Linked DNA regions of Homo sapiens. The protein of the gene in region 2 purifies or fractionates together with the protein of the main gene of each other region. This does not show direct contact. Each region holds a gene or a part of one and is shown on either strand. Other genes may lie near its edges.

Region 1 (4,322 bases), on a different chromosome or scaffold from region 2:
ATTATTTTAGTCTATTAGTTCATTAGTTTGGGGTATTACATTGTAAAGTGATGTCATCTGTAACCTAGTGCTATTTAAAGATGCACTGAGCAGAGTAGCTATAATAAAAAATATCATCGCTTAAAAATCTCAGTAACAATCCAGAATTTGCCTGTTTATAAGACTTATTTGGGCACTCTGACTTTTAAAAGTTAGGAGATGTGACTTTTCTTGATTTTTGAATTTATTTTTACCATCAACTGCCAATAAATTTTCCTCCATCTATAGGTCTGAGGATATGGCTTAATGAGTAAAACTCACTGGGTAGTTGTTACCCATCACCATAATTTTTGTTGTAAGTAGTTTACTTCTGTGTATTCTCTCAGGTATCCCAAGTAGATACCATCTGTGAGTGCTTACTGGAGCATGAGGAGCAAGTCTTGAGGGATGCACCTATGGATTCCATTGAATGGGCTGAAGTGGTGATCAATGTGAACAATATTCTCAAGGTACAAAAATATAGTAAAGGCTTCAGCAAATCAAAGCCCAGGGCATGGATAGACAAGGAACTGGTTTCCATGTTCCTACTCTGTATTGCCGATAATGTATAAGGTTGTAGACATTTGTTAATCCCAAAAAAGTTAGAAAAATGTCATTTTATTATTAATCAGCTAATGAGTATTTTGAATGTTAGCCTGGTGCCTATTAATAAATTTCTATAATCTTGAGTTTCTATTTGGTAGAATAATAAACCTTTCATTTGGGAAGATGTGTTTGTATCTTTGCAATTTTTTAGTTGGTTTTTTTTCTGAGAGAAGGTCTCACTGTCACCCAAGCTGGAGTGCAGTGGCACCATCATAGCTCACTGTAACCTTGAACTCTGGGCTCACGACTTCCTCCTGCCTCAACCTCCAAGAGTGTTGGGATTACAGAACTGAGACACCATGCCTGATTGCAAACGTATTGTTAATGTAACTGTCTAAATATTTCTCATTTCTATTTTTTTAATTACTCAAAACCTTGCTACTTTTACTATTGACTAAAACGTTCCATTTAATTTTAGCTAGTGGACTTGTAGTAATGATTTTCCTACTTTGCCAAATAATTTTCCTACTATTATTTGCCAAAACTGAAGTTAAATTATGGAGTAAAACAAATTTCAAAAGCAGAAAGAACCAAAAAGTAATCATGCAGATCTGTGCTGACTTTTTTCTCTCATTTTCTTTTCTTTTCTTTTTTTTTTTTTTTTTGTGAGACATGGTCTCACTCCATTGCCCAGGCTGGGTTTATAGTGGCTTGATTATAGCTCACTGCAGCCTCCACCTCCTGGGCTCAAGCAGTCCTCCTGCCTCAGTCTCCCAAGTAGCTGGGACGGTAGGTGCACGCCACGATGCCCAGGTAATTTTAAAAATTTTTTGTACAGATGGGGTCTCACTATGTTGTCAGGCTAGGAGCAATCCTCCTACCTCAGCCTCCCAAAGCACTGGGATTACAGGTGTGAGCCAACATTCCTGGCCCCTGAGTATTTTTTCTTACTAATTTACTTTGCTGTCTTAAATTATCTTCAGAAATACTGTGATCCATCACCTTTTGCATGTGATAACACATTAACTTTTTTTCCAGGATATGCTGCAGGCTGCTAGTCATTATCGCCAAAATAGAAACTCTTTGTATAGAAGAGAAGAATCACTAGAAAAAGAACCTGAATATGTTCCATGGACGGGTAATATACTGATTTATTAACAGTTGTTCAAAATATATTTCTAATGACCCATCATTTTTAGAAGTTGTGTTATTCCCCTAGCGTAGGTTTGTAAGTGAAATGAAAAAGTGCCGTCTCCAAAATGAGCAGCTCTTGTCAAAATCACTTTATTCGTCCCTTGCTCTTATTTATCGATCTCTCTATAATTTATGTATTCAACTGGTACTTATGCATTTACTAGGTTTTAGTTCAAATAGTTATTCATAGAAGCAGTCCTGGCCCCGGAGGTATGGACTATATTTTATGTTGATTTAATACAAGAAAGTAAGTGGAGTAGCATTAAAGGAATTTAGAAGGAAGAAGAGTCATGTTTACCTGGCTTTGCTGAGGAAATCTCCTTGGAGAAGATGGGATTCAAGCAGGGCATTGACAGGTATCACCTGAATCCCTGTTCAATGTAATTTTCCAGCAGTGATGAAGAGGCATAATTTTTATGCTATTAGTCTTTCCTTTAGCCATCACTAGATCCCTTACTTTAACCATATTATTTTGTGTAATTTCACAGCAACAAGTGGTCCTGGTGGCATCCGAACGGTAATAATACGCCAGCATGAGATTGTCCTGAAGGTGGCTTATCCACAGGCAGACAGCAACCTCCGAAACATCGTGACCGAGCAGCTGGTAGCCCTGATCGATTGCTTCCTGGATGGTTATGTTTCTCAGCTTAAGTCTGTGGATAAATCCAGTAATCGGGAAAGATATGACAATCTGGAGATGGAATACCTACAGAAAAGATCAGATCTCTTATCTCCTCTTCGTAAGTTCATGATACTTGGCAAGAGTTTTAAATTTGCTGAATGGATGAAAGGGTTGAATAGTTAATTCAGTATATTCAGTGTGGTAGTGTTAATCCAACTGTAATAAAGAACTTAAAGCAAATATGCACAGCTTTCTGTGCTCATTTATTCAACTTTTTTTCCAGTACTATCTAGGTATAAGTACCATAGATGATACTGAAGACAATTAATAAATACATAAACAAACAACATGTGGAGACTACCCTTAAAGAGCTTAGCATCACAGACCTTTACGTGAATAACTGGATTGCAAAGTAGAGCCTGGTGAGGGCTGCTTGAGGGGTACAGATAAGATATTATGGCTGTTTGGCAAAGGACACATTATACTCCAGGCTAGGACTGGGAAGAGTTTGCTTTACTCTTACATGAAGGAAGAGAATAGCGTTTTGGGGAGGCAGTGATGAAACAAGGGTCTGAATTTGCATCTTTTTTTTTTGTTGAGACAGAGCGTCACTCTCTCGCCCAGGCTGTAGTGCAGTGGTATAATCTCAGCTCACTGCAACCTCCATCTCCCGGGTTCAAACAATTCTCCTGCCTCAGCCTCCCAGGTAGCTGGGATTACAGGCGTGTGCCACCACAACTGGCTAATTTTGTATTTTTGGTAGGGATGGGGTTTCACCATATTGGCCTGGCGGGACTCGAACTCCTGACCTCAGGTGATCCACCCGCCTCAGCCTCCCAAAGTGCTGGGATTACAGGTGTGAGCCACCGCACCTGGCCTGAATTTGCATCTTTAAGAAATTGATGTGAATTGTGAAACTAAGTGCCAGTAAGTGGGAAGGTTTCCATTCCATTAATGATTGTTGGTTTATAATAGGAATAAAGATAAAATTTCAAGTAACATTTTTTATTACAGATTTTAAGTTTTGCTAACAGGATTTTTTCCCATCTTTTCTCATTCCCACAGTTTCACTAGGCCAGTACCTGTGGGCTGCTTCTCTAGCAGAGAAATACTGTGACTTTGATATATTGGTACAAATGTGTGAGCAGACTGACAACCAGAGCCGACTCCAGCGCTACATGACCCAGTTTGCTGATCAGGTGATGAGTGTTGGGTGTGTGGCCACTGAGTCCTTTAGTTGCCTTTTCTTGAAATGGCTTTGCCATTTCAAATCTGTAATCAGGGCTTTTGGAATATGATACGATCTTTTTGTAGTTAACTTTGATGAGAAGATACTAATTTGTATGTCGCGTTTCTTTGTAAATTTTGTCCAGTAGCGAGATCACAGTTCACGACAGCCTCAACCTCCTGGGTCCAATCACTTCTCCCACCTCACCCCCTCCCACACCTCCTGCTTTCCAGTAGATGGGACCACAGGAGCTCGCCACCATGCCTGGCTAATTTTGTTCATTTTTCAGTAGAGACAAAGTCTCGCTATGTTGTCCAGGCTGGTCTCAAACTCCTGGGCTCAAGCGATCCTCCTGCTTCAGCCTCCCAAAGTGCTGGGATAACAGGCATGAGCCATCGCCTGACCACACAATTCTTTATATATAAATATTACTGAAAGATTCTTTGACCTTTGGAAAATATAACTTTCATTTCTGTTTATATATTTTCTAGTTATTATAAAAGTACTTAGGTACATGAATATTGGTAAAGTTCTTAAAAATTGTATAGAAGATACTCGGGAGCATAGAAGACTACTTTAAGAGAGCTTAGCTTTACAAATACACCTAACATTCTCATTTTCCTTGAGGGATATTATGCTTCCTGTTTAAAAAACAAAGTTCCCAGCCAGCCTCAGTGGCTCATGCTGTAATCCCAGCACTTTGAGAGGCCAAGG
Region 2 (3,919 bases):
GTCTTCGAGTTGGAGCGGCTCCTCTACACAGGCAAGACAGCCTGTAACCATGCCGACGAGGTCTGGCCAGGCCTCTATCTCGGAGACCAGTATGTATCGGGCAGACTGGGCCCACGGTAGAGCGTGTGTGTGTTTGTGTGTGTAAGAAAGGAGAAGGGTGGCAGACAGGTATGCAGTGGTGTCATTGGTTCCTGGTTGAAGATTGAGGGGATAGGGCACATGGGCCAAGAGTAGAGGCTGCAGGTTTGGGAGAGTTTGGCCAGGATTATTGAAATGCCCAACTCTGGCCAGTCACAGTGTCTCTTGCCTGTGATCCCAGCAGTTTGAAAGGCTGAGGCAGGAGTATCTAGAGTACAGGAGTTCTAGACCAGCCTGAGCAACAAAACCAGACCCCATCTCTACTTATTATTTTAAAATAAAATAAATAAAATAAAAATACCCAAGTCTGGACAGAAAGACTCTGTTCCAGTAATAATATCATTCATGTATCACATATTTATTATTACATGCCAGTGCTACATACCAGGCACAATAGATGACTTCTCTGACCTTCCATCTATTGTGCAATGTCTCTGGGAAAAGGCAGCCACTGGAAGCCAGGAGCAGTAGGTAGGAAGCTGCAGTGGTTTCTCTTGAGACCAAGCAAAGCGGCAGTGCCTACAGAGATTCTGCAATTTGAAGGCTATGGAGAGAAAAACATCAAAGGAAGAGCCATCCCCACTTCTCTCCCTCAAAGTTATACAAGGATTTCTTTTGCTTCTTTGGTTTGTTTTGGTTTTGGTTTCTTTCTTTTATTTTTTTTTGGAGACAGTATCACTCTGTCACCCAGGCTGGAGTGCAGTGGCGCGATCTTGGTTCTCTGCAACCTCCACCTCCCGGGTTCAAGCGATTCTCCTGCCTCAGCCTCCAGAGTAGCTGGGACTACAGGCACACACCGCCTTGCCCGGCTAATTATTTTTTTGTATTTTAGTAGAGACGGGGTTTCACCGTGTTGCCCAGGCTGGTCTTGAGCTCCTGAGCTCAGGCAGTCCACCTGTCTCGGCCTCTCAAAGTGCTAGGATTATAGGTGTGAGCCACCGTGCCCAGCATTGTTGTTGTTTTTGAGACAGGGTCTCACTGTTGCCCAGGCTGGAGTGCAGTAGCCCAATCTCAGCTCACAGCAAACTCCGCCTCCCGGGTTCAAGCAATTCTCCTGCCTCTGCCTCCCAAGTAGCTGGGCTTACAGACGCCCATCACCACACACAGCTGATTTTTGTATTTTTAGTAGAGACGGCGTCTAGCCATGTTGGCCAGGCTGATTTTGAACTCCTGGCCTCAAGTGATCCACCTGCTTCAGCCTCCCAAAGTGCTGGGATTACAAGCATGAGCCACCGTGCCTGGCCTACAAGGATTTTTTTCACACACATTATCTCTCTTAATCTTCACAACAGCCCTGTGAGATAGGTATCACTCTCCCTGGGTTACAGATGAGGAGACTGAAGCTCAGAGAAGTTGTGCCTGGCCAAGGTCACACGGGTTGTAAGTAGCAGAGCCCGGGCTTGGAGGCTCAAGTTCAGTGCTCTTTCTGCTTAAGGAGTTTGCACTGGACAGGGCAACTCAGTTTGCCCTGAGATATGACTGTGGTGCCCAGGGGTGTCTGCCACCAAGCTGAGGGGTCTGGGCCGGATGAACACCTGAAGGTGACGTCATAAAACAGGGTAAATGTGGCCGGGCATGGTGGCTCACATCTGTAATCCCAGCACTTTGGGATACTTAGGCGGATGGATCACGAGGTCAGGAGTTCAAGACCAGCCTGGCCAAGATAGTGAAACCCCGTCTCTACTAAAAATACAAATATTAGCCTGGCATGGTGGTGGGCACCTGTAATCCCAGCTACTCGGGAGGCTGAGGCAGAGAATTGCTTGAACCCGGGAGGCAGAGGTGGCAGTGAGCCGAGATCGCGCCACTGCACTCTAGCACTCCAGCCTAGGTGACAGAGCAAGACACCATCTCAAAAAAAAAAACAAACAACAACAACAACAACAAAAAAAAACACAGTCACAGTAAATGTGAGCCATGGAATATCTGGCAAAAACACAAGACGGTTCTGGGTGTCAACAAGAGTAGAGACATAGGGGAGTTAGGTGTGGAAGTGGATGTCAGAACCATACTATCTCAGAGTGAGCAGGACCGATGAAATGAGCAGAACAATCTGCCTGACATTCATTTCCCCTCTGCAGCATCCATGGCTACATGGCCATCTCCTCTTTCTGCCTGAATACCCCAGGGACAGGAAAACCACTCTCTCTCGAGGTTCTCCACCCTTTCCTCAGCTAGACTCCACCATTAGAATGTACTTCCTTGTATGAAATTGAAATCAGCTGGCCAGGCACAGTGGCTCACGCCTATAATCCCAGCACTTTGGGAGGCCTAGATAGGTGGATCACAAGGTCAGGAGTTCGAGACCAGCTTGGCCAACACGATGAAATCCCATCTCTACTAAAAATACAAAAATTAGCCGGGCATGGTGGCAGGCACCTGTAATCCCAGCTACTCAGGAGGCTGAGGCAGGAGATTCGCTTGAACCTGGGAGGCAGAGGTTGCAGTGAGCTGAGATTGCACCATTGCACTTCAGCCTGGGAGACATAGCAAGACTCTGTCCCACCTCCCAAAAAAAAAAAAAATGAAATCTGCTTCCCTGGGGCTTTAATTCCTTGATCCTCATTGTACCCTTGAGAACCCTACAGATCCAAGACAATCTCAATTCCAGAAAACACACTTTCAGTTTTGTTTTGTTTTGTTTTGTTTTTTTTGAGATGGAGTCTTGCTCTGTCACCCAGGCTGGAGTGCAGTGGTGCGATCTCGGCTCACTGCAAGCTCCGCCTCCCAGGTTCAGGCCATTCTCCTGCCTCAGCCTCCTGAGTAGCTGGGACTACAGGCGCCTACCACCACACCCAGCTAATTTTTTCTATTTTTAGTAGAGATGGGGTTTCACCATGTTAGCTATGATGGTCTTGATCTCCTGACCTCGTGATCCGCCCGCCTCGGCCTCCCAAAGTGCTGGGATTACAGGCGTGAGCCACCGCGCCCGGCCGCACACTTTCAGTTTTATTATGGCTATTTTTACCCCATCCCCTTAGTCTTCTCTTCTCCAGGCAAAACATCCCCTATACCTTCAACCATGGCTCACAGGACAAGACTCCAAGTCATTGCCCATCTTGGTTCCTCCCTTCTGGATCACTAGTAAGTAAAGTAGTGTCCTTAGGCCAATAGTAGGATCCAGGAGGCCAGGCATGGTAGCTCACGTCTGTCATCCCAGCACTTTGGAAGGCCGAGGCGGGAGGATAACTTGAGGTCAGGAGTTCAAGACCAGCCTGGCCAACATGATAAAACCCCATCTCTACTAAAGATACAAAAATTATCCGGGTATAGTGGCATGTGCCTGTAATCCCAGCTACCCGGGAGGCTGAGGCAGGAGAATCGTTTGAACCCAGGAGATGGAGGTGGCAGTGAGCACTCTGGCCTAGGAAACAGAGCGAGACTCCATCTCAAAAAAAAATCAACAATAGGATTCAGGAAGTTAACAGGGTGTAGACAAGGGAGTCTTCCCCAACAACCTGGCTTTCCCACCCTTCCTCTAACCTCTACTCAATGCAGGGACATGGCTAACAACCGCCGGGAGCTTCGCCGCCTGGGCATCACGCACGTCCTCAATGCCTCACACAGCCGGTGGCGAGGCACGCCCGAGGCCTATGAGGGGCTGGGCATCCGCTACCTGGGTGTTGAGGCCCACGACTCGCCAGCCTTTGACATGAGCATCCACTTCCAGACGGCTGCCGACTTCATCCACCGGGCGCTGAGCCAGCCAGGAGGTAGGAGGGGAATGCTGGGAGCAGGAAAGAACAGGGTGCCTGGAATTTGGGGAAGTCCAAGGGTCTGA
Region 3 (4,322 bases), on a different chromosome or scaffold from region 2:
CTGTCATGAAGACCTCAATAATGTAAACATGTCACGACATGGCAGGGACTGGAGGAATCACATTGCTGACTGTACCTTAGACCTTCTTTGAAAGGCTCCAGGCTTCATATCTGCCTTGTTAGGTGTCTGCAAGTCACCATAGCTTGCAATGTACTGAATGAGATTCATTAACGCAGCACAAGAGTCTGAGCACGTTCTGATATGGACAACATCGCTGGAACAGTGTAACTCAAAGCGGGGCTCAGTCTGGACAAGACACAGAAAAAGGGATGAAAATGTTTTCCAAATGAGACAAAAGTTTCTTTTTTTGCATAGATTTACATTAAATAAGATTCATGATAATCTGTCTCGCTACATAAAAAAAGTATTTAAATAAATCCATTTTTAATATACTTACTCTATTTCTGACCAAAATTAGGTACACGGAAAAATGTTAAACTCAATTTTTTTAATCTCTTAAAAAATAGAACTTAAAATTTTCATTTATTTTAATAACTCACTTGCTCTCCATCAGAATCAGACTTCACTGCAGTTATGGTTAACTCCAAAAGCCCCATATCCATCACACGAACATAATCTAAAATTTTTAAAATTAAGAAAATCTCTTCAGTACAGCTTTCAAAAATGTGTATCCAACCAACACCCAATACAACTAGCATTCCTTTAAAATTCATTGCAGAGAGCACTACAAATAATTATAATGCAATGAAAATAGTTTCATCCCATAGAAGTCCTAAAATTCACTTTATTTTTTGTTAGAAACAAAAATTATCTTAAATAAAAATTTGTAGTATATATAGTAATTTGATGTACTTAACTAGCATTATAAGAACATTACAATTTCAAACTGAAAAACCAGTATCTGAAAAATGAAGCTGTGAATATATACCACATGATCACTATATACTTAAAGACCCTTTAATCTTTAAGGATCTTTAATAAGATTCTTAGTTCACTAGCATTATCCCAGAGTTAAAATGCTTTAAAATTATTTACGCACAAAAATAAAGCAGAATTTATCTACTCCATTTGTTTTTTAACTCTTACCTCTACTCAGATTTATAGTGACAGTATTGCATTTGTCAGATAGATGTAAAGCAGCTTCATCCAAGATTATTCTGAGGCAAGAAAGATAAAACCAACATCTGAAAAACTAAGCTTTGAGTATCATACCCCATAATCACTATATGCTTAATTGCATCATTCTTTCTGGTATGAACATTGTTGAAATCATAAGCAGTTTCTAACTTATAACTGTCATCTAACATTTTTTAAAAACTGTTTATGAATGCTAGGAATATTTAAATGGTGTAAAGAATTAGATTAAATCATCTACTCAAATTAATTCTAAATTTTTGGCAGTTTTTAAAGAGATGCCCAAATTCACAAGGTTTAAACTATAGTATAAAGATAGAGTGGGCCAGATGTAGTGGCTCACACCTGTAATCCCAGCCGTTTGGGAGGACAAGGCAGGAGGACCACCTGAGGCCAGGAGTTCTCAACTAGCCTGGGCAACACAGCAAGACCCCTTCTCTACAAAAACAAAACTTTTTTTTTAATCAGCCAGGGATAGAGGCACACGTCTATAGTCCTAGCTACTCAGTAGGGTGAGGGCAAAAGATCACTTGGGCTCAGGAGTTGAAAGCTGTAATAAGCTGTGATCATGCCACTGCATTCCAGCCTGGGCCACACAGAGCAAGACCCTGTCTCTAAAAAATAAAAAAATTAAATAAAAAGTATAAAGTGTATCAGGTAGCATGGGAAGTTTACCATATGTTTTAAAATGCAAACTTTTTAAAGAATCTCCAGAATTAATTTCTTCCCTAAAAATGAAATGCAATAATAAATGGGTAGATGAAACATGTCACCTGAGAAAAATTGGGTAATTTGGGTAAAAGGTTATAACTATTAGTAAAAGAACGTTTAACAAAAAATTGAGACTTTAATAAAATGGTTTAGGTAAATATCAATTGGTATGTTTCGAACAGCTTTGTTTAGTATACAATGAAGTTTACACAGGTACCTGAGAGTAGAGGAAGATTTATCCAATGCAACGCTACTGGAAACACTGAATGTTTCCACGGTAAGAAGAGATCGGATTGGCAAATAAAGGGGTCTAATGCCAAAGAGAAACAAAAGAACATCAGTTTGATACGGCTCCAGAAACTCTATTAAAAACAACAACAACAACAACAATTTGAACCTTAACTCTACTGAATTATGTATTTTTTTCAAAATTTAGTAGCATTTTAAATAAAACTTTATTTTGTTCCATTTGTGAACTTACCTATAATCAAGTGCACAGCTCCAAAGATGAACATGAAAAGTTGTAAATGAAGTTGGAGGATTATATCCCAAAACAGGTTCATCAGCAATATTCAAGAAGTATAAAATCTATAATCACAAAAAATTAAAACGCCCTGCTTTAGAAGAAAAAAAAGGTTTCATATAATATCCTTAATACCAATGTAAACCAGAATATCTCACAGAAAAAATCATTTAATTGGAAAATCATAACGGTAAAAGGAAAAAAATCATCATTTTGAAGGAATTAGTTTCAAAAAGTACTTGCATCAGAAAAGAAGGTAATGGATACTGATGGATGTGTTCGTTTGACTACAATAGGCATTTTACTATGCATATCAAGACATGTTATTCACCTTATATATAATAAAAATAAATTTTTTAAAAGTATTTGCAAAATTAGAATTTGAAATGCAGAAGCCTATCCAACAACTCCAATGCTACAGAAATCTTAGAAAATCACACCTTATGAAATTAATAACAATGTATGCATAATATAATTTCATATTTTTTGGCTTGGAACAATTCTCAGAAAAAATAAATTTTGCTAAAGACTGCTTAAAACTATCAATCTGGCTTCTTATATAACTCATTGTGTGCAGGGGCGATTGGTTTTTCATATAAGTCATTGTTGAAGGAAGCTCTTTTTCCTTAATGTATACCTAGCTCAGTCTAAAAACCAGTCCCTCTCACCAACATCTATTCTTTCATATTTCTAATCCAAACAAATAAGGAGGTTCTGCTAAATGTCTCCCTTCCAGCTGGTTATTCACCCTAACCACTTCTCTACTCCTACCAGATAGAAAGTCAGACAGATATTCTCATGTTTCCTAAATGCTTTCATGAGAAAAGAATTTTGAAAACACTCAAGTTTTTAAATAATGTATTATTTTCCCAGCACAATTAAGAAGTTCTCCTTTATAAGAAACATGAGAAGCAATCATAGTGCACTAGTTTTCATTCTCACATAAGGAAAAGCTAACTTCTTACTCAAAGTCTCCTCTGAAAAATAACCAATTGTATTTTATTACCATAAAAAGTTGTTGAACTGGAAATTAATGAGAGAAATCCTGATAAAATGCTTTAAAGCAACATCATATTATTGGCCTAGGGAATTATATGGAAATATTGCACTTAAAGAACTTCTGATTATAAAAGCAATTCAACACACCATTCACTGCTCCTCTACGCCAGACATTCTACAAGTCCTGGGATACAGAGTCCCTTCCCTTCCTTTAATGACATATAAGATAACTCTGTCATTGAGAGGTTTTGAGGACCACACTTTAAGGTAAAAAACCAATTACATTCTGAGGTGATAATACTGTTTTGTTTTGTTTTGTTTTGTTTTGTTTTGTTTTGTTTTGTTTTTTGAGACAGAGCTTCGCTCTTGTCGCCAGACTGGAGTGCAGTGGCACGATCTCAGCTCACTGCAACCTCCGCCTCCCGGGTTCAAGCGATTCTCCTGCCTCAGCCTCTCCAGTAGCTGGGATTACAGGTGCATTCCACCACGCCCAGCTAATTTTTGTATTTTTAGTAGAGACGGGATTGACCAAGCTGGGCTCGAACTCCTGACCTCAGGTGATCCACCTGCCTTGGCTTCCCAAAGTGCTGGGATTACAGGCATGAGCCACCGTGCCCGGCCAATACTGTTCTATTTCTTAACCTAAAAGGTGGTGACACCGTAGTATTCACTTAATGATAATTCACTGAGCTGAACATTTATGACTTACAAACTTTTCAGTATGTGTATTAGATGTCAACACAAATTTTTAAATAAATTAATACATATATAACAGCTCTCTTACCTGCTCATGCCAGCTAAGCCCAGAAGGAAGCATTCTATGCTGGAGAGTGGCTCCTTTCAGTCCTACGGCAATGAGAAATTCCTATACAGAACAAGACAAAGAATGACATTTACCACCTATGTAATCCTATAACTCAAAAGTTTTTCCAAGAAAATAAATATGTTGCCTTTTATGTAATTATTTTTAGCTAGAATCAAATCAACAGTGGCA
Region 4 (4,322 bases), on a different chromosome or scaffold from region 2:
TGTTTGTTATTTCCAAATAAATAGTTTTAAGAGTATGTTCTTCTTTTTCTGATTCAATATTATTGATATTCCAACAGATGGTGAAGGAGGAATAGAAGATGAAAACAGGTCTGTTTCTGGGTTCCTTCACTTTGACACTGCTACAAAAGGTAATGCCCTTTGAATTTGTAATAAATTTATTTTATAGACATATATTAAAAAAAAAAAAACTTCAAGGGATTATTATGCCTGTGCCTCCAAACTCTGAACTGGTATAGAAAAGTTATATAAAGGATTAATTGCCACCTGAAAATTTTTTTTATAATAGGATTATACAAAAGGAAAGAAAATATTTTTGTTAATGGATGTATCAGAAATAAAATCAAATTTAGATTCCAATACAGTTTTCAGTTTCTTGACTATTTTATGCTCTTTCTGAAAATAGCACTGTCTTTGAAAATCAACTGAATATGATGGCTTGCCTTTCTTTTCAATGTCCCAAGTAAAATCAAATTACTTTTTATTATTTCTAGTACGTCGAAAAATTCTAAATATTCTTGACTCGATTGACTTCAGTCAGGAGATCCCTGAGCCTTTGCAGTTGGATTTTTTTGATCGGGCCCAGATTGAACAAGTTATTGCTAACTGTGAACACAAGAATTTACGGGGACAGACAGTCTGCAATGTCAAGGTGAGGATTGCTTTAAAGTACATATCTGCAGTGTCAAGTGGCTCAGACTTTAAGTCATCAGAAACAAATAGAACCATATAGGTTTTCTTTCTGATAGAGACATTGGTTTAGTAGTTTATAGGAAGGACTGTGATTTTTGTAAAATATCCCTGAAATAAAACTTAATATATCACCTAACTTCTTGAAAAGGGATACTTAATATTTTGGTCTGGAAATTGGACAGTGCTCCTGTTAGATTATATATAAAGGTATCTGACACCTTTCCCTTTAGGGCAGTTTATGGTAATTGCTAGGTGTTACTGTTCTACCAGTGTCTGAAATGTCTTATTTTTCTTTCTTTTCCTAATTATCCAGCTTCTTCATAGGGTTCTTGTAGCTGAAGTAAATGCCCTTCAGGGTATGGCAGCCATAGGACAGAGACCTCTACTAATGGAGGTAAGCTCTATTGAGTATGTGTTCGTTTCAAACTTCTAACTACTTAGGTTGCTGGTGAAAAGACTAAAATAGTATATTGACATGTAGTTTGCTAATTAGTAAGCTGCCTAAAAATTAAACATTTAGGGAGTCTTTCACTTTTGATTTTATAACTTTTATAAACTGAACTATCTGGTATGCCAAAATAAATAACACCTTTTCTGCTAGGCTAGTTAAGGATTTGCAACCTGACCATATTTCGTATTAGACTTCACTTGGTCCCCATCAGTGAGAGAGGAGGGTCATTTGTCATCACAAGTGGAAAGTTACAGATAAGAGGTCAGGTGGGAAGAACCACATGAATGGAGATACAGCCGGCCAGGCCAAAGCAAGAGGCAAAGAAATAAAAGAGATGTCAGAGAAACATGCCATTGAACTTGGAGTTTAGATAATTCTAGTGCTCTAGAGTAAGCAAGTATAAGTAGACAGGTACAAGGAGAAAGAAGATGGTGTCAAAAAATACATATTTATCTATGCCACTTCTGTCCCCTACCTTTCATGCACATACACACACATACACACCTTATATGTTAATATTTTTTATAGCCCTGGCTACTGAAATAATATGAAAAGATACCTGCTTCCTGGCATGCATGTAGTAGGTTTCCAAATAAATATTTTCTGAGTAACTGACAGATAACTGATCTTATTTGCCTGTTTAACCTTGTGATTCAATTCCTGTGGCTTTAGGAAATCAGCACTGTACTTCAGTATGTGGTAGGAAGAAATAAATTGCTGCAGTGTCTTCATGCAAAACGTCATGCTCTGGAGTCGTGGAGGCAACTAGTAGAAATTATACTGACAGCTTGTCCCCAGGACCTCATTCAGGCAGAGGATCGACAACTGATTATTCGTGATATTTTACAAGATGTGCATGATAAGGTGACGTACTTCCTAAAATACTTTATACTGCTGAACGAATGTATCATTTAAACAAATATATTTTGGCATCCTAATTGTTTTCCATTTTCGATTGGGAGTAAAATAGAATTGTGCAATACCAACGTTAAGACTTTCCTTGAGAAAGGGATTAATTCTGTACAGTAGTGGCTCTCAACCAGAGTGTGTGTCTGAGTTATCTCGGGAGCTTTGTAAAAATTCACATGGACAGAGCCCACCCCAGACCTACTGAATGTAGTGGTGAGACCATTTATGTGAATTTCAAAAAGAAAACCTCCCTAGGGAATTCTGATAGGAATCCCTTCTGGTTAAGAACACCCATTACCTAGCATCATGTTTAAATTTCTCTGTATATATTAGATTCCTTTCTTTCTTTCTTTCTTTCTTGACTAATTTCTGTATTCCATTCTTATATTGTTACCATAGTTGACAAGCTAAATGTATATAAAACTTGTTAATGGGCTGTGTGCAGTGATTCATGCCTGCAATCCCAGAACTTTGAGAGGCCAAGGTGGGAGGATCACTGGAGCCCAGGAGTTTGAGACCAACCTGGGCAACATAGTGAGATTCCATCTCTACGAGCATGATGGTGTGCACCTGTAGTCACAGTTGCGGGAGGCTGAGGTGGGAAGACCTCCTGAGCCCAGGAGGTCAAGGCTGAAGTGAGCTGAGATTATGCTACTGCACTCCAGCCTCGGTGACAGAGCGAGACCCTGTCTTCAAAAAAAAAAAGCTATGAAATTTGTTAATGATTATAGCTGAAAGCAGGATTCTCACTCTAATTTGCCCTTGTCCTTTAAGATACTGGATGATGAAGCTGCGCAAGAGTTAATGCCTGTGGTCGCCGGGGCAGTGTTCACACTGACTGCTCACCTAAGCCAGGCCGTCCTCACTGAACAGAAGGAAACATCAGTCTTGGGACCAGCAGAGGCCCATTACGCTTTTATGCTTGATAGTTGCTTCACCTCACCTCCTCCTGAAGAGAACCCATTAGTGGGTTTTGCTTCTATTGGAGATTCTTCACTTTACATCATATTGAAGAAACTGTTAGACTTCATTTTGAAGACAGGTTTTTTTCATTTAAATTGTCTATAAATTCTATCTTTTGTATTTGTTTTAACTTTAATTGAGAAAAGATTTTCATTTGACATCTTCCTAATCTCCCTAGGTGGTGGATTCCAACGAGTGAGGACTCACTTGTATGGCTCTCTGCTTTATTACTTACAGATTGCCCAGAGACCTGATGAACCAGACACCTTAGAAGCAGGTAGAATGAGATCAATTCCTAATCTTTTCTGGATTGGGAGATGGTTACTTTAAATTGAAAAAAAAAATCACTTCTCCATCTTTTGACTAATCACAACTGTAAAAAATGAGTGTTAGTGTCATTTTTAAAGCATTTACTCAAAAGTTGAGGAAGAATGTTTAGTTTTTAAGAATTATGAAGTAGTACATGAGTACTACTTTTAAGATAACCTTCAAATAATACTTTAGCTTTATATACTTCTGTAACTCCCTCACTTGCCTCAAGTCCGACTGAACAGTGTGCTCTACATAGAATGGTCCAATGTCTTTCTTTCCTTTGTGCTACATCAGAGTACTTATCTAGTTGATTCTTTTAAAATATCTCGGCCTGGCATGGTGGCTCACGCCTGTAATCCTAGCACTTTGGGAGGCCGAGGCCTGTGGATCACCTGAGGTCAGGAGTTCGAGACCAGCTTGGCCAATATGGTGAAACCCCATCTCTACTAAAAATCAGAAAATTAGCAGCCATGGTGGCAGGCATCTGTAATCCCAGCTACTCAGGAGGCTGAAGCAGGAGAATCGCTTGAACCCAGGAGGCAGAGGTTTCCCAGATTGCGCCACTGCCCTCCAGCCTGGGCAACAAGAGTGAAACTCTGTCTCAAAAAGAAACACAAAAGTCTTTGTTATTCCATGATATGGATGAAACACTTATCTGCCATTTTCCTTATTCACAGGCATTTCAATTGTTTCTAAATTTTTATTACAAAAATGCTACATCAACTTTTTTTATATGCCTATATTTCTCAAAAAGGATACTGCTTAATGGTGGAATTTCCATGTGTAAAAGTATGTACTTTTATTTTAAAAAGATTCAAATGAATGACCTTCTCCAGTATAAACTCATCAATAGTATACATGTATCTTTTTGTACTAGTGAGGTTTTGTTTGGATAAATTCCAAGAAGTGGAATTTCTTGGTCAAAAGTTAGGCACATTTAAAATATTGCTAAATGCTGCTTTCTAAAAAGTTAGCA
Region 5 (4,322 bases), on a different chromosome or scaffold from region 2:
ATAGAGCTATGTTGATTTGTTTATGTATGGTCTGTGGCTGCTTTTGCACTGTAATGGCAGAGTAATTGTGACAGAGACCATATGGCCTGCAAAGCCTAAAATATTTACTGTCTGGCCTGTTACAGAAAAAGCTTGCAATTCTGCTCTAAGCTATTCTCCACACTGTAGCTAAACAGCTTTCTAAAACAGTTAGGTCATGTCACGCCCCCACTTGTAATCTTTCGTGTCTTATAAGGAGACCCTCATCTCTCTCACCGTGCTTTACCCTTGGCTGCGTGCTTCCAGAGTGTGTTCATGCTTCCATTGTATACGTACCATTTTGTATTTTAATGCTTAATCGTCTTCCTCACTGGACTCGGCCCCAGTATTTTGTTCCCCTTTGTATCTCTGGGATACTAGGTATGCAAGAAACATTTGACATCTGAGTAATTGCTGTATTTCTTTAAATGCATGTGTTATAGGTACCTGTCTATTGCACTAAGACTGGTGTAAAACATTTGCACCACAAGGCTCAAGAGTTTGACATTGGAGTTTATTTTGAAGCAAATGGGCATGGCACTGTAAGTTCTCTTAATTATAGTTGGCCTTAGCTGGCACTTTTCTTTATGATGAGACTTCTATATCTGGGAGGTAATAATAGGTAATATTGTACTTTGTTGAAATAATTGGATGTGACAAAAAGATCCTTTGGTTATCTTATATATTGATGTATTATGAAACTGTGATTCTCTTTTACATGGTAATGATTCTTCTTTGAATGTGAAGAGATATACTAAGGTGTTTTGAATAGTTTTTTAAAATTTACAGTTCTTAATTTTTTTATAAGTATGTTGTCTATGCATTTTCCGGCTGGCCATAGGAGAGGAAAAGAAAAATTCAGTCGCTATGGTGAATTGCAAAGTGTTGGAAAGTTGATAATTAATAAGAAATGAAAATGAATTTAAGGTAACTAGTGATAGGCATAAAATGTTTCAATTTACATTTTACATAAAATTACATTTTAAAGTGTATAATTTAGTTTTTTGTAGATTCATAATGTTCAGAATATTTTTAAAATGTTTTTATACTCACCTCATTTAATGAATACACTTGAGGTGGCTATCAGAACATTTGAATCAAAGCCAAATAATTTTCCTCATTAATTTAAAATTGGCTTTTGGAGGGCATAAATATAAAAAGGGGAAAAATAAGTTCCTACAAAATGCAATTAAGATATAACTTTAGTGATCGAATGGAGAAGTTGGTAAATTATTTTCTAAAGGGTAGAGAGTAAATATTTTTGGATTTTCAGGCCATAAGGTCTCTTACAGTTGTTTAACTCTGCTGATCTAGCTTAAATGAATCTGTGTGGTTGTGTTCCAGTAAAACTTTACAAAAACAGGTGACTAGCCTGTGCCTTATTTTATCAAGAAAAATGTATTTCATCAAGTAGTTGAGCATAGTATGCTAATCTTGCTCAGTATTAGGCCTCTAGAAGGCAGTAAAAAAGATGAGTATTTCCAAATGAGATAAGACTCTTGAGGAGCATGATGAATTATATATTGTAATGACTATCCATGACATTATTTGCCATATTTTGATGAATACTATGAACTCTTAATTTTGCCTAGCTCATCCCCTTAAGTTTTAGAATAAAACTATACTAGCTGCAATGAATTATATCCTTCAAAGTAAAAAGGATACAGACAGGCTCTAAGTAACCTGGTTGCACAGAAATGATTTAGCTGGTTAAAGGGAAAACATGAACTTACTGTGTGTGCTTGCCTCTTGTCAAGGTGGTGTTTTCTTTGTAATCAGATGTTTAAATTTTTATAACCAGTTATATAATCCGCAAATAAAATTTTTCCCCTAGTACTATCCTCTGGGTTTTAATGTGATCTTACATTAATTTCATACATTTTAAGGCTGCCACTATTTTTCCCCTCAGTTTCTCCAGATTGACTAGGAGGGAAAAGTGGGTTAGCTAGAATAATAGTACTTATGACTAGGTTTTGGATAGTGTTTTGAGACTGATTTTATATTCTTTTGCTGCAGGCACTGTTTAGTACAGCTGTTGAAATGAAGATAAAACAATCAGCAGAACAACTGGAAGATAAGAAAAGAAAAGCTGCTAAGATGCTTGAAAACATTATTGACTTGTTTAACCAGGTCAGAACTGATGGGGCAGTGGACTCTTGGTTACCTTTACATTATTCAGAAGATGGACAGAACAGAGTGTGGGTGCATACAAAATTAAAGTGGAGACGTCCTGGCCTGGTGGCTTCCTTCTAATAGTGGTATATTCAGTTGAGATTTATAATGAAATGGAATGACAGAACATTTTTTAATATGCTTCCCTTCCCCTACCTCTTATGATGGAAATTTTCAAGTATATTGGGTAGCTTCTACCTAGGATCACAGATTCAGCTACTCAGTGTATACATATATATTATTAATTTTTTTTTAACCAAACCTCGATGAAATTAAGTAAAAATAACTGGTTGTCAGGCCAGGCACGGTGGCTCATGCCTGTAATCCCAGCCCTTTGGGAGGCCAAGGAGGGCGGATCACGAGGTCAGGAGATCGAGACCCTCCTGGCTAACAGGGTGAAACCTCGTCTCTACTAAAAATACAAAAAATTAGCCGGGCATGGTGGCGGGCACCTGTAGTCCCAGCTACTCGGGAGGCTGAGGCAGGAGCATGGTGTGAACCCGGGAGGCAGAGCTTGCAGTGAGCCAAGATCACGCCACTGCACTCCAGCCTGGGTGACAGAGCGAGACTCTGTCTCAAAAACAAACACAAATAACTGGTTGTCTCATTGACAAAGGACATACATGTGGGTTAGTTGGGGTTGGAGTGTCGTTTGGCTATGGAAAAGCAGTACTCAGGGTAGAGGAAAGCGATTCAATTATTTGAGTGTCTTGCACACACTGGACACTTTATATACCTTGCTGTGTAATCCTTACAGTAACACAGGGAGAGGTGTTACTGTAATTTCCATTTTATAAGTGAAGAAACAGAGATTTATCTTCAGTTATATCTTATACCAAAGCTCATATTTCTCCATTTTACCTTGATGCTTTCTATCAATCATTGTGGGGTAATATCTCAAAAGGGATCTATTTATAAAAAGAAAAATGAGTGATGGAATGTTAGGCTGAGCCTTAGAGTTATCCAGTCTAATTTCATTTTATAAATAAGGAGTACTAAAGGCAAGTTTCTCAAGAGCTAGTTTCAGTATTCTTTGTTATACCTTTCATTGTCTTCCACAGAGATCTTCACCTCATTGTTCGTATTTTATCCATCCACAAAAACACTTCATTTAATCATGCTGCATGTGAGAAAGCACATGATATAGGCTGAGTATCCCTTATCCAAAATGCATGGGACTAGAAGTGTTTTGGGTTCCAGATTCACTGGATTTTGGGATATTTGCATATATATAATGTGACATCTTGGGTATGGCACTCAAGTCGGAAACACTAAATTCTTTTGTTTCATGTATGTTACATAAGATTAAAGGTGGTTTTATAGAATACTGTAAATTTAGTGCATGAAACAAAGTTTGTGTCTACTGAACCATCAGAAAGCAAAGGTGTCACTCTGTCAGCCACCCGTTGGACAATCTGTGGTTGTCTGGCATCACCATCATTCCTAAAACTCTGAATTTATATGCTATCAATCAATAAGCAATCAATCATTTTTTTACACTTATTCACACACAAGTATTTTAATAGTAAAAAATATGATACATATCTGGCATGCATGGAAACGATGTATCATAGCTGAAGGAGGCTGAGAGGGTCTTTTTCCCTTGGGGATGCTGAATGAACTGCGGGCCTGCCTTTAGTGGGTTTTTTTTGTTGTTGTTGTTGTTTTGTTTTGAGATGGAGTCTCGCTCTGTTGCCCACGCTGGAGTGCAGTGGCGCAATCTTGGCTCACTGCAACCTCTGCCTCCCGGGCTCAAGCAATTCTCCTGCCTCAGCCTCCCGAGTAGATGGGATTACAGGCGCCCACTACCACACCTAGCTAATTTTTGTATTTTTAGTATAGATGGCGTTTTACCATGTTGGCCAGGCTGGTTTCAAATTCCTGACAGTGAGGTCAGGAGTGCATTTGTTTTTTATTAAGAGACAAGGTCTTGCTATGTTGCCCAGGCTGGAGTGCATTGGCTGTTCACAGGCATTATCACAGCACACTGCAGCCTCAAACTCCTAGCTTCAAGTAATCATCCCATCTCAGCCTCTCCTGAGTAGCTGGGACTGTAGGTGTATGCCACCACACCTGGCAGTTGTATACCCACATTTTGACCTGTCACAGGAGGCCAGGTGTGGAATTTTTCA
Region 6 (4,322 bases), on a different chromosome or scaffold from region 2:
CTGAGCTCAAGCGATCTGCTGACCTTGGCCTCCCCAAGTGTTAGGATTACAGGCATAGGAGCCACTGTGCCAGCCTGCTTATTTAAATACAGAGAAAACCCCTCCTAAGATTGTTGGGAATATATAGGGTGCCAGGTGCTTTCACTTGTGTTCTTAGGCAGCTCTTATGACATACTGCCATACAATTATAATTATCCTTGTGTTACACAGATGAGGAAATTGTTGCTCACATTAAATAATTTCCCCCCAAGTTATTCAATATGTGAATACAGGGGCAGGAATTCTAACCTAGGTCTTTCTGACTTATCTCTATATCATGCTGCCATTTCAAATTAACAAAATGAACAATAATCCAAATCTCTAGGTTGTATGTGCATTATGGTGACCAGCCTTCATGGTTTGTCCAGGACTGAAGGGGGTTCCAAGACTTGAGACTTTCTATTTTGAAACTAAGACATTCCTAGGAAAAGCAAGAGAAGCTTATCACTCTAGTGTGTGTGTTAGTGAATGGCGTGAGGATGTTCTGTATAAAGAAAGTGCCCAGCCAGGCGAGGTGGCTCATGCCTGTCCTCCCAGCACTTTGGGAGGCCGAGGCAGGTGGATTACCTGAGGTCAGGAGTTCAGGACCAGCCTAGCCAACATGGTGAAACCCTGTCTCTACTAAAAAAATACAAAAAATTAGCTGGGTGTGGTGGCGGGTGCCTCTAATCCCAGCTACTTGGGAGGCTGAGATAGGAGAATTGCTTGAACCCAGGAGGCGGAGTTTGCATGAGCCAAAATTGCGCCATTGCACCCCAGCCTGAGCAACAAGAGCGAAACTCCGTCTCAGAAAAAAAAAAAAAAGAAAAGAAAGTGCCCAAAGAAATTGGAAAGGTTACATAGAATTCTCTAAAGATCTTTAATAGGTAAGGTTAAATGTTCAAGTACATAAATGTTGTAAGTGAAACCTGTTTGGAGATAGAAGACTCTGTGAGGGTAATTTTAGCCTAAGATTTTTTTTTCTTTTTTTTCTTTTTTTTTTGAGACAGAGTTTCCCTCTTGTTGCCTAGGCTGGAGTGCAGTGGTGCGATCTTGGCTCACTGCAGCCTCCACTTTTCGGGTTCAAGTGATTCTCCTGCTTCAGCCTCCCGAGTAGCTGGGATTACAGGCACCCACCACCATGAGCGGCTAATTTTTGTATTTTTAGTAGAGATGGTGTTTCACCATGTTGGCCAGGCTGGTCTCGAACTCTTTTTTTTTTTTTTGAGGTGGACTCTCACTCTGTCGCCCAGGCTGGAGTGCAGTGGCGTGATCTCGGCTCACTGCAAGCTCCACCTTCCGGGTTCACGCCATTCTCCTGCCTCAGCCTCCCGAGTAGCTGGGACTACAGGTGCCCGCCACCATGCCCGACTACTTTTTTGTATTTTTAGTAGAGACGGGGTTTCACCGTGTTAGCCAGGATGGTCTCAATCTCCTGGCCTCGTGATCCGTCCGCCTTGGCCTCCCAAAGTGCTGGGATTACAGGTGTGAGCAACCGTGCCCGGCCCCAAACTCTTGACCTCAATGATCCACCCACCTTGGCCTCCTAAAGTGCTGGGATTACAGGCGTGAGCCACCATGCCCAGCTAGCCTAAGATTTTTATAATTTAATAGAAGCTTTCCTTTATTATTTGTTACCACATTGTTCTTGAGGAGATCTGGAACTAATTTAACAATTTGGCCTTGCTTACTGAGGCTGAGCTTTCTGAGCTTCAAGAGCATTCCTTACCTGTTACGACTTTCAATAGCAAGTAACACGTTTGTAGCTGCCATTTACCCCCGAACTATCCTTTTATTATTTTAAGGCTTTTTAAAATTTTAATTTTTCTTAGCCACACACAAATCTTACTAAGGTTTTAATTTCAAAAGTCATGCCTGCCTGTTTAAGACTTTCAAGCAATACAGGATAGAAAGGAAAAAGTCCTAGTATTTTTCTTCCTTTTTAAAATCTCAACCCTTTCCCCAGGTCACTAGTTTGAAGTACATCTTTCCAGACTTTCTTTTCTGTACACACACACACATACACACTCACTCTCTCTCTTTCTCACTCTCTCTCTTAAACACATGCTCTCTCTCACTACTCCCTCTCTCTCTCTACCCCCCTCCATCCCCCTCTATTTTCTAAACAAAACAATCTCCACTGCTTTGTCACTTAACCTTTTCAATTCAACAATATATTATGGACTTCTTTCCATATCAGCAATATATATCTGCTTCATTCTTTTTAATAATAGCTGCATGGTATTCCAATAAAATAGGTCAGAGCTTCCCAACCAGTGGGCCTTACATGGTTATAGGTGTGCCAAGATACTGAATCCCTAAGGGAGCTGGGCAGGACTAAGAACTCCAGAGATGGAAAATGGTAAGATACTGAGGCAAGTATATATGAAATATATAAAACCGTTTCATTCCTTCTACATTTTTCTCAGGAATTAAAAAGTCTTGCAACTAAAAAGCCTGATAAGATTGGTATTCCTGTTATTAAAGAAGGCATACTAGATGCTATTATGGTTTGGTTTGTGCTCCAGCTTGATGATGAACATAGTTTATCCACAAGTCCTAGTGAGGAAACATGTTGGGAACAGGCTGTCTACCCCGTACAGGACCTTGCAGGTAGGTCTTGTCCATTTTTTTTTTTAACCTCTTGCTTTAATCTTCTAAGTATTCAAGTCAGTGGCAAAAAAAAAATTACTTTGGATATGAAGGTTTCAGTCAAAGGAGGTTGGTTAAATCTTTCAGAACTTCATTTTTTTTCAAAAGAAATTTGAAATAGGTAATATTTGTGGTTAAGAGAGACAAACACAACTCTGTTGCATAGCATTTGAAAAACCTATCATTATTTCTTCAGCTCTGATTTTTCTTTTTTCTTTTTTTTTTTTTAACGACAGAGTCTCGCTCTTTTGCCCAGGCCGATTGCAGTGGCTTGATCTCGGCTCACTGCAAGCTCCGCCTCCCGGGTTCACGCCATTCTCCTGCCTCAGCCTTCCGAGTAGCTGAGACTACAGGCGCCCGCTGCTGCGCCTGGCTACTTTTTTGTATTTTTAGTATAGACCGAGTTTCACCGTGTTAGCCAGGATGGTCTCGATCTTCTGACCTCGTGATCCACCCACCTCGGCCTCCCAAAGTGCTGGGATTACGGGCGTGAGCCACTGCGCCCGGCCGATTTTTCTAGTTATCAGTAGATGAAAGAAATCCTGCTCCATTATTTCATGGAAAGTACTGGAAAAGTATTGCTTTTAGTGCAGGAGTTCTTACTCCTTAGAGAAGCCGATAACGTCTGTGGAGCCCTGCATCATAAAAATGTACACACTCATATAAGCACAAAATTTTTCAGTTTTAGAGAGTTCATGAATCTGAACTTCCCTAGGGAAGTTCTGTATAAAGATTTTTTTTTTGTATGGAAATTTTTTTTACAGTGATTCGATGGGTTTCAGTAAGTTTAAAGTAGTTGAATTATATAGAAAAACTACCCTTTTTAGGCTGGGTATGGTGGCTGACACCTGTAACCCTAGTACTTTGGGAGGCCCAGGTGGGAGGATTGCTTGAGGCCAGGAGTTTAAACCAGCCTGGGCAACATAGCAAGACCTCATTTCTTTTTTTCTTTCTTTCTTTTTTTTTTTTTTTTTTTTTTTTGAGACAGAGTCTCGCTCTGTTGCCCAGGCTGGAGTGCAGTGGCGCAATCTCAGCTCACTGCAACCTCCGCCTCTTGGGTTCAAGTGATTCTCCTGCCTCAGTCTCTTGAGTATATGGGACTACAGGTGCATGCCACCACGCCCAGCTAATTTTTTGTATTTTTAGTAGAGACATGGTTTCACTGTGTTAGCCAGGATGGTCTCGATCTCCTGACCTCTTGATCCATCCACTTCAGCCTCCCAAAGTGCTGGCATTACAGGTGTGAGCCACCGTGCCCGGCTGCAAGACCTCATTTCTACAAAATGAAAAAATTTAGCTGGGGATGGTGGCAAGTGCTTGTAGTCCCAGCTACTTGGGGCACTGAGGAAGAAGGATCGCTTGAGTCCAGGAGGCTGAGCCTGCAGTGAGCCAAGATTATAACACTGCACTCCAGCCTGGGCAACAGAGGGACATCCTGACACACACACACACGCACACACACAGAAAAACTCTACCCTTCTTAAACTGGAAGTTAATACATCTATTTCTGTTTAGTTTCTTAATCAAGGATCTAATTTGGCAAGGTCATAAAGGCCTGGAATCAGTATATTGTTGTAGCCAGTATGTTGTTTTTGGAGTTAGGTAGATTTGGATTCAGTTCTTGTCTCTGCTACTTACTCATTCCTTCCTGG
Region 7 (4,322 bases), on a different chromosome or scaffold from region 2:
GTTTCTCCATGTTGGTCAAGCTGGTCTTGAACTGCTGACCTCAGGTGATCTGCCTGCCTCGGCTTCCCAAAGTGCTGGGATTACAGGCATGAGCCACTGTACCCGGCTTGGCTTTCATTTAATTGTGATTTCATTGGAAGAAGATGTTAGACTTCTGTTCTGTACCTCAAGGCAGATTCTTGGTCTTAGCCTAATCCATGCAACTCATTTTTTGAAAATATATATATTTTTTCAGATTAAAAAAAAATATACATTCCATGGAGAAAATGTGAAAAACTCAAAAAAATGATCTGTAATACCACTATGGCTTACATGAACATTCCCTATGACCTTCTAGCCTTTTATATTCATAAATGAACATTTACAAACAATATCAAACTGCACGTATGGCTTTGTACCCTGTCCTTTTTTGCATATATATAGTGAGCTGTATTTTCCCATGCCAACACACCATTGTTATGGCTGCACAGCCATGGTATGCTGTACCTTAATTTATTTAAGCAACTCTAGTATTCAACATTCAGGCTCTTTGTAAATTTTTGCTGTTAAGAACAATTTGCCCTGAACATCCTAGTGCATGCATGCCTGAACACTTGTCTAGTTATAGTTATCCTCTCAGGTAATACGTTCCCAGAAATGGAGATCAAAGACAAGGTACACCTTTAACTCTTAGGCTGTCTAACTTTTTGTGTTTCTGTGGTGGTGGAGGGGTATAGGAACAGAACTTGGTGCCACAGAGGGTCAGACATGATTCATGTCATGTGTGAGTGTTGCACTAGCATGTGGGGAGTAAGACCAGCCTCTGCCCTCAAGGTTAGGTACTAGGCACTTCCCAGGCAGTGCGAGGATGTGATGGAGAAGGGATGAAGTGGAGAGGGGGTGGCGCGGGGTTGGCTCAGCCTAGAACCAGTGCCACACATCCACCTTGAGACTCCAGGGTCTCAGGCTGCATCCAACTGCTCGGCCTGAATCCTGCCGGCCTGAAAGAATCCTGCTGGAGCCACTTGATTACACTCTGCCCTGCCCTACATTCCTGACCCCATATCCCCTCCCTAGCTTGGCCCACTGGGGCGGTGGCTTGGGTTGGGGGTGGGGACACATGCTGAGTTTTAGGGTGGGGCCACACCAGCTTTCTGTTTTCAGCTTAGGGGGAGGTTTCTGGGTTTGGATGACCTCTGCACACATGCCTGGAGTCCCTGCATGTCCACCCCCAGCCCTGCTCTCTAGACTTCACCCCATGTGGGGCTGGGACACCCCTCTCTGGGAGTGAGGGCTGTGTGAGTGGAAGGGAAGAAACCTGGGGTGGGGGAAGGAGGAAAGCAGAACGCAGATCTCTACTAAGTTCATCACAGGCCTCTGAATGTGAGCTCTGAGCCCCCTGGGTATGTCAGGCTGGTCATGCGAAAGGTGCCAGTGACACCCAGCATTTGTACCTGCAGTCACAATTCCCTGCAGTCAGGACACCTGGCTTGGAGAGCTTGGGGTCACGCAGCAGGGGACTGAGAAGAGAAGTTTGTAGGGCCTTTCAGGCTAGGGACTGTGAGAGAAATCGTGGGTGCAGAAATGAGGCTGGGCGTTCACAACACAGTGAGTCCAGGGTGTGGGCTGGGGATGGAACTGGGTGGAGCCACATGCCACATTACAGAGGGATTTCCACTTGGGGAGACAGTCAGGAGAGACTCATTGCAGAGGCTTCAGTGAGGGAGTAAAATGGCCAGAGTGCTATGTTTTTTTGGTCAGCAGGTGGGCAGAGCCGGAAGGGGCTGTCAACACAAATCTCAGTCCAGGAGCAGCTGCAGGTGCTTGAGGCAGACACCTGTGCATATTTGGTTAGCAAATTGCTCTCCCCATCGCTCAGCCAGCCAGCCCGCCAGCCAGCCAGCCATTAGCCCTTCCTGCACAGTGCAGGAGAGCCCTCTTCTCCAGTATGAGTCTAGAAATAGATGATGGGGGTGATATAGGTAATGGGAGGGAAAATTAAGTCTGTGTCTCAAAGATGATGATGATGATGGCAGTGGGTAGACTTTACAGATCACTTACATTGGGTGGCCCTGGCCTTTACCTATGCTCTCACAGCCTGAGGCATAAATACAATTCAGGAAAAGTAGTGGGAAGCATTTAGAACACCAATTTGCTTACCACCTAGACTTAATCATTGTTTACAGTGGTCACATTTGATATTTGTATTTTTTGCTGAAGTATTTTATGATAAATTACATACATTGCATCTTTTTCACCTCTAAATATTTTATTATACATCCCTATGTAACTACAGTGTTGTGATCACACCAATTAATAGTTTCCTAATAGCATTCAGGGCCCAATCCATAGTCAGATGTGCCCATTGTCCTCAGTGGTGTGATCAGAGTTCACTGTAACCTCGAACTCCTGAGCTCAAGCAATCCTCCTGTCTTGGCCTCCCAAAGTGCTGGGATTACAGCCACTGGGCCCAGGTTGTCTGTGTTTGACCGACCATTGGTTTCTTTTTTTTTTTTTTTGAGATGGAGTTTCCCTCTTGTAGCCCAGGCTAGAGTGCAATGGTGCAATCTCGGCTCACTGCAGCCTCTGCCTCCCGGGTTCGAGTGATTCTCCTGCCTCAGCCTCCAGAGTAGCTGGGATTACCAGTGCCAGCCACCACGCCCAGCTAATTTTTGTATTTTTAGTAGAGACGGGTTTCACCATGTTGGGCAGGCTGGTCTTGAACTCCTAACCTCAGGTGATCTGCCCGCCTCAGCCTCCCAAAGTGTTGGGATTACAGGCGTGAGCCACCACGCCGGGCCTGACCATTGGTTTCTTTAAATCAGGATCCTAGGCCAGGCGCAGTGGCTCATGCCTGTAATCCCAGCTCTTTGGGAGGCTGAGGCAGGCGGATCACGAGGTCAAGAGATCAAGACCATCCTGGCCAACGTGGTGAAACTCCGTCTCTACTAAAAATACAAGAATTAGCTGGGCATCGTGGCACATGCCTGTGGTCCCAGCTACTCGGGAGGCTGAGGCAGGAGAATCACTTGAACCCGGGAGGTGGGGGTTGCAGTGAGCTGAGATCGTGCCACTGCACTCCAGCCTGGCAACAGAGTGAGACTCCGTCAAAAAAAAAGAAAAACCATCGAGATCCTGTCAAGGTACTCGTGTTACATTTTCTTATGCCTCTTCAGTTTCCTTTAATCTAAAACAGCGCCCCGCCCTCATCTCCTTTTCCACCATGAACACTGAGTTTCTGGCAAGGCGGGGTTGTGGTGTAGGCTGCTTCACTTTCTGGATTGATTTGTCAGGGCTGCCTTTGTTGCTTTGTTTCCCAGAGAGCTCTGCGGAGGTTTGGAGCCAGGGCGAGTTGGCCTGAGGGTCTGCCCTGCTGAGGGTCCTACAGCCTCAGTTACTCTGTCAAGTGAGAAAGACTGAGAGAGTCCAGTTCTGGGTTATGGAGAGTGGGAGACAAGCCTGGGGCTGGCAGGCCAAATATATGAGGCAAGGGCTGGCTGGCGGCCCATGGTTGCACCTTTTCTCCCTCTCTTCCCAGCTTTCCCTTTGGTCTCCTGCTCCCTGTCTTTCTTCTCCTTGGCCTTACAGATATGTCCTCCCATGCACCCAGCACCGCTGTAGAGACCCCAGGACTTGTCAGACAGCCCGCCTGACCCTGACAGCCAGAAACCCAGGCCTGTGGCAGAGGCAGGGTGGCACACTGGCCCCGACCTTTATTTCTACTGGGCCAAGTTTAGTTGTTCTTGCTATCTCCATTCTTCCTGGAGAGACTATTTGGGTTCTCTGCGTGTGCGGCTTATTGTCCTTTCTAGACTTTAAGCTTTCTGAAGGCTTTAGCTGTACTTGTTTTAAAATTCTATATATTCCATATACTGTCTGGCCCCCCGTTGGTTGGCACAGGGTGGATTCTTGGTAAAGATATGTAGAGGTAAAGGAAATGGTTGCTTTTGCAGGGATGCAGGAGTTAATTTCTTTTCTCTGATGAGCCAGGAGCCCCAACCAGTGAATCTGGGTTTCTCTCTTAACATTCCGCCTAGTAGGTGTGACTTTGGCTATCTGGAGAAAGGGCCCCCCAGGCTTCCCACCCACCACCAGCCCATCCCAGTGTTCTGACAGTGCCTGCTGTTGGAGTGGCCTCCTTGGGGCTGGCCTGCATCTGTGGAGTGGTGGCCAGTTGTAGGGTCTAGCCCTACGGGGCTTAGTGGGTGTTCTCCCCATGTGCGGAGATGAGAGATTGTAATAAATAAAAGCACAAGACAAAGAGATAAAGAAAAAACACCTGGGCCGGGGTGACCACTACCATCAAGACGCGGAGACCAGTAGTGGCCCTGAACGGCTGGGGT

Evidence for each region.
Region 1: the proteins of DUSP26 (region 2) and NUP133 purify together in Homo sapiens (affinity purification with mass spectrometry, with the first as the bait; one large-scale study listed by BioGRID). This does not show direct contact.
Region 3: the proteins of DUSP26 (region 2) and ATG2B purify together in Homo sapiens (affinity purification with mass spectrometry, with the first as the bait; one large-scale study listed by BioGRID). This does not show direct contact.
Region 4: the proteins of DUSP26 (region 2) and NUP205 purify together in Homo sapiens (affinity purification with mass spectrometry, with the first as the bait; one large-scale study listed by BioGRID). This does not show direct contact.
Region 5: the proteins of DUSP26 (region 2) and PGM3 purify together in Homo sapiens (affinity purification with mass spectrometry, with the first as the bait; one large-scale study listed by BioGRID). This does not show direct contact.
Region 6: the proteins of DUSP26 (region 2) and PRMT9 purify together in Homo sapiens (affinity purification with mass spectrometry, with the first as the bait; one large-scale study listed by BioGRID). This does not show direct contact.
Region 7: the proteins of DUSP26 (region 2) and ITPR3 purify together in Homo sapiens (affinity purification with mass spectrometry, with the first as the bait; one large-scale study listed by BioGRID). This does not show direct contact.

The regions. Positions count from the first base shown.
Region 1 is NC_000001.11:229,462,800-229,467,121, reverse strand, and holds part of NUP133 (nuclear pore complex protein Nup133), read left to right. Parts: intron 1-365; coding exon 366-488; intron 489-1,602; coding exon 1,603-1,702; intron 1,703-2,246; coding exon 2,247-2,498; intron 2,499-3,445; coding exon 3,446-3,579; intron 3,580-4,322. UniProt on the Homo sapiens protein: Involved in poly(A)+ RNA transport. Involved in nephrogenesis.
Region 2 is NC_000008.11:33,593,465-33,597,383, reverse strand, and holds part of DUSP26 (dual specificity protein phosphatase 26), read left to right. Parts: coding exon 1-89; intron 90-3,636; coding exon 3,637-3,851; intron 3,852-3,919. UniProt on the Homo sapiens protein: Inactivates MAPK1 and MAPK3 which leads to dephosphorylation of heat shock factor protein 4 and a reduction in its DNA-binding activity. Inhibits MAP kinase p38 by dephosphorylating it and inhibits p38-mediated apoptosis in anaplastic thyroid cancer cells.
Region 3 is NC_000014.9:96,311,042-96,315,363, forward strand, and holds part of ATG2B (autophagy-related protein 2 homolog B), read right to left. Parts: intron 4,194-4,322; coding exon 4,113-4,193; intron 2,395-4,112; coding exon 2,288-2,394; intron 2,117-2,287; coding exon 2,024-2,116; intron 1,119-2,023; coding exon 1,048-1,118; intron 578-1,047; coding exon 501-577; intron 247-500; coding exon 76-246; intron 1-75. UniProt on the Homo sapiens protein: Lipid transfer protein required for both autophagosome formation and regulation of lipid droplet morphology and dispersion.
Region 4 is NC_000007.14:135,616,578-135,620,899, forward strand, and holds part of NUP205 (nuclear pore complex protein Nup205), read left to right. Parts: intron 1-77; coding exon 78-149; intron 150-512; coding exon 513-670; intron 671-1,024; coding exon 1,025-1,105; intron 1,106-1,834; coding exon 1,835-2,026; intron 2,027-2,845; coding exon 2,846-3,113; intron 3,114-3,212; coding exon 3,213-3,311; intron 3,312-4,322. UniProt on the Homo sapiens protein: Plays a role in the nuclear pore complex (NPC) assembly and/or maintenance. May anchor NUP62 and other nucleoporins, but not NUP153 and TPR, to the NPC.
Region 5 is NC_000006.12:83,172,200-83,176,521, reverse strand, and holds part of PGM3 (phosphoacetylglucosamine mutase), read left to right. Parts: intron 1-461; coding exon 462-560; intron 561-2,034; coding exon 2,035-2,148; intron 2,149-4,322. UniProt on the Homo sapiens protein: Catalyzes the conversion of GlcNAc-6-P into GlcNAc-1-P during the synthesis of uridine diphosphate/UDP-GlcNAc, a sugar nucleotide critical to multiple glycosylation pathways including protein N- and O-glycosylation.
Region 6 is NC_000004.12:147,656,101-147,660,422, reverse strand, and holds part of PRMT9 (protein arginine N-methyltransferase 9), read left to right. Parts: intron 1-2,447; coding exon 2,448-2,631; intron 2,632-4,322. UniProt on the Homo sapiens protein: Arginine methyltransferase that can both catalyze the formation of omega-N monomethylarginine (MMA) and symmetrical dimethylarginine (sDMA). Specifically mediates the symmetrical dimethylation of SF3B2.
Region 7 is NC_000006.12:33,627,000-33,631,321, forward strand, and holds part of ITPR3 (inositol 1,4,5-trisphosphate-gated calcium channel ITPR3), read left to right. Parts: intron 1-3,038; exon of another isoform or gene 3,039-3,385; intron 3,386-4,244; exon of another isoform or gene 4,245-4,322.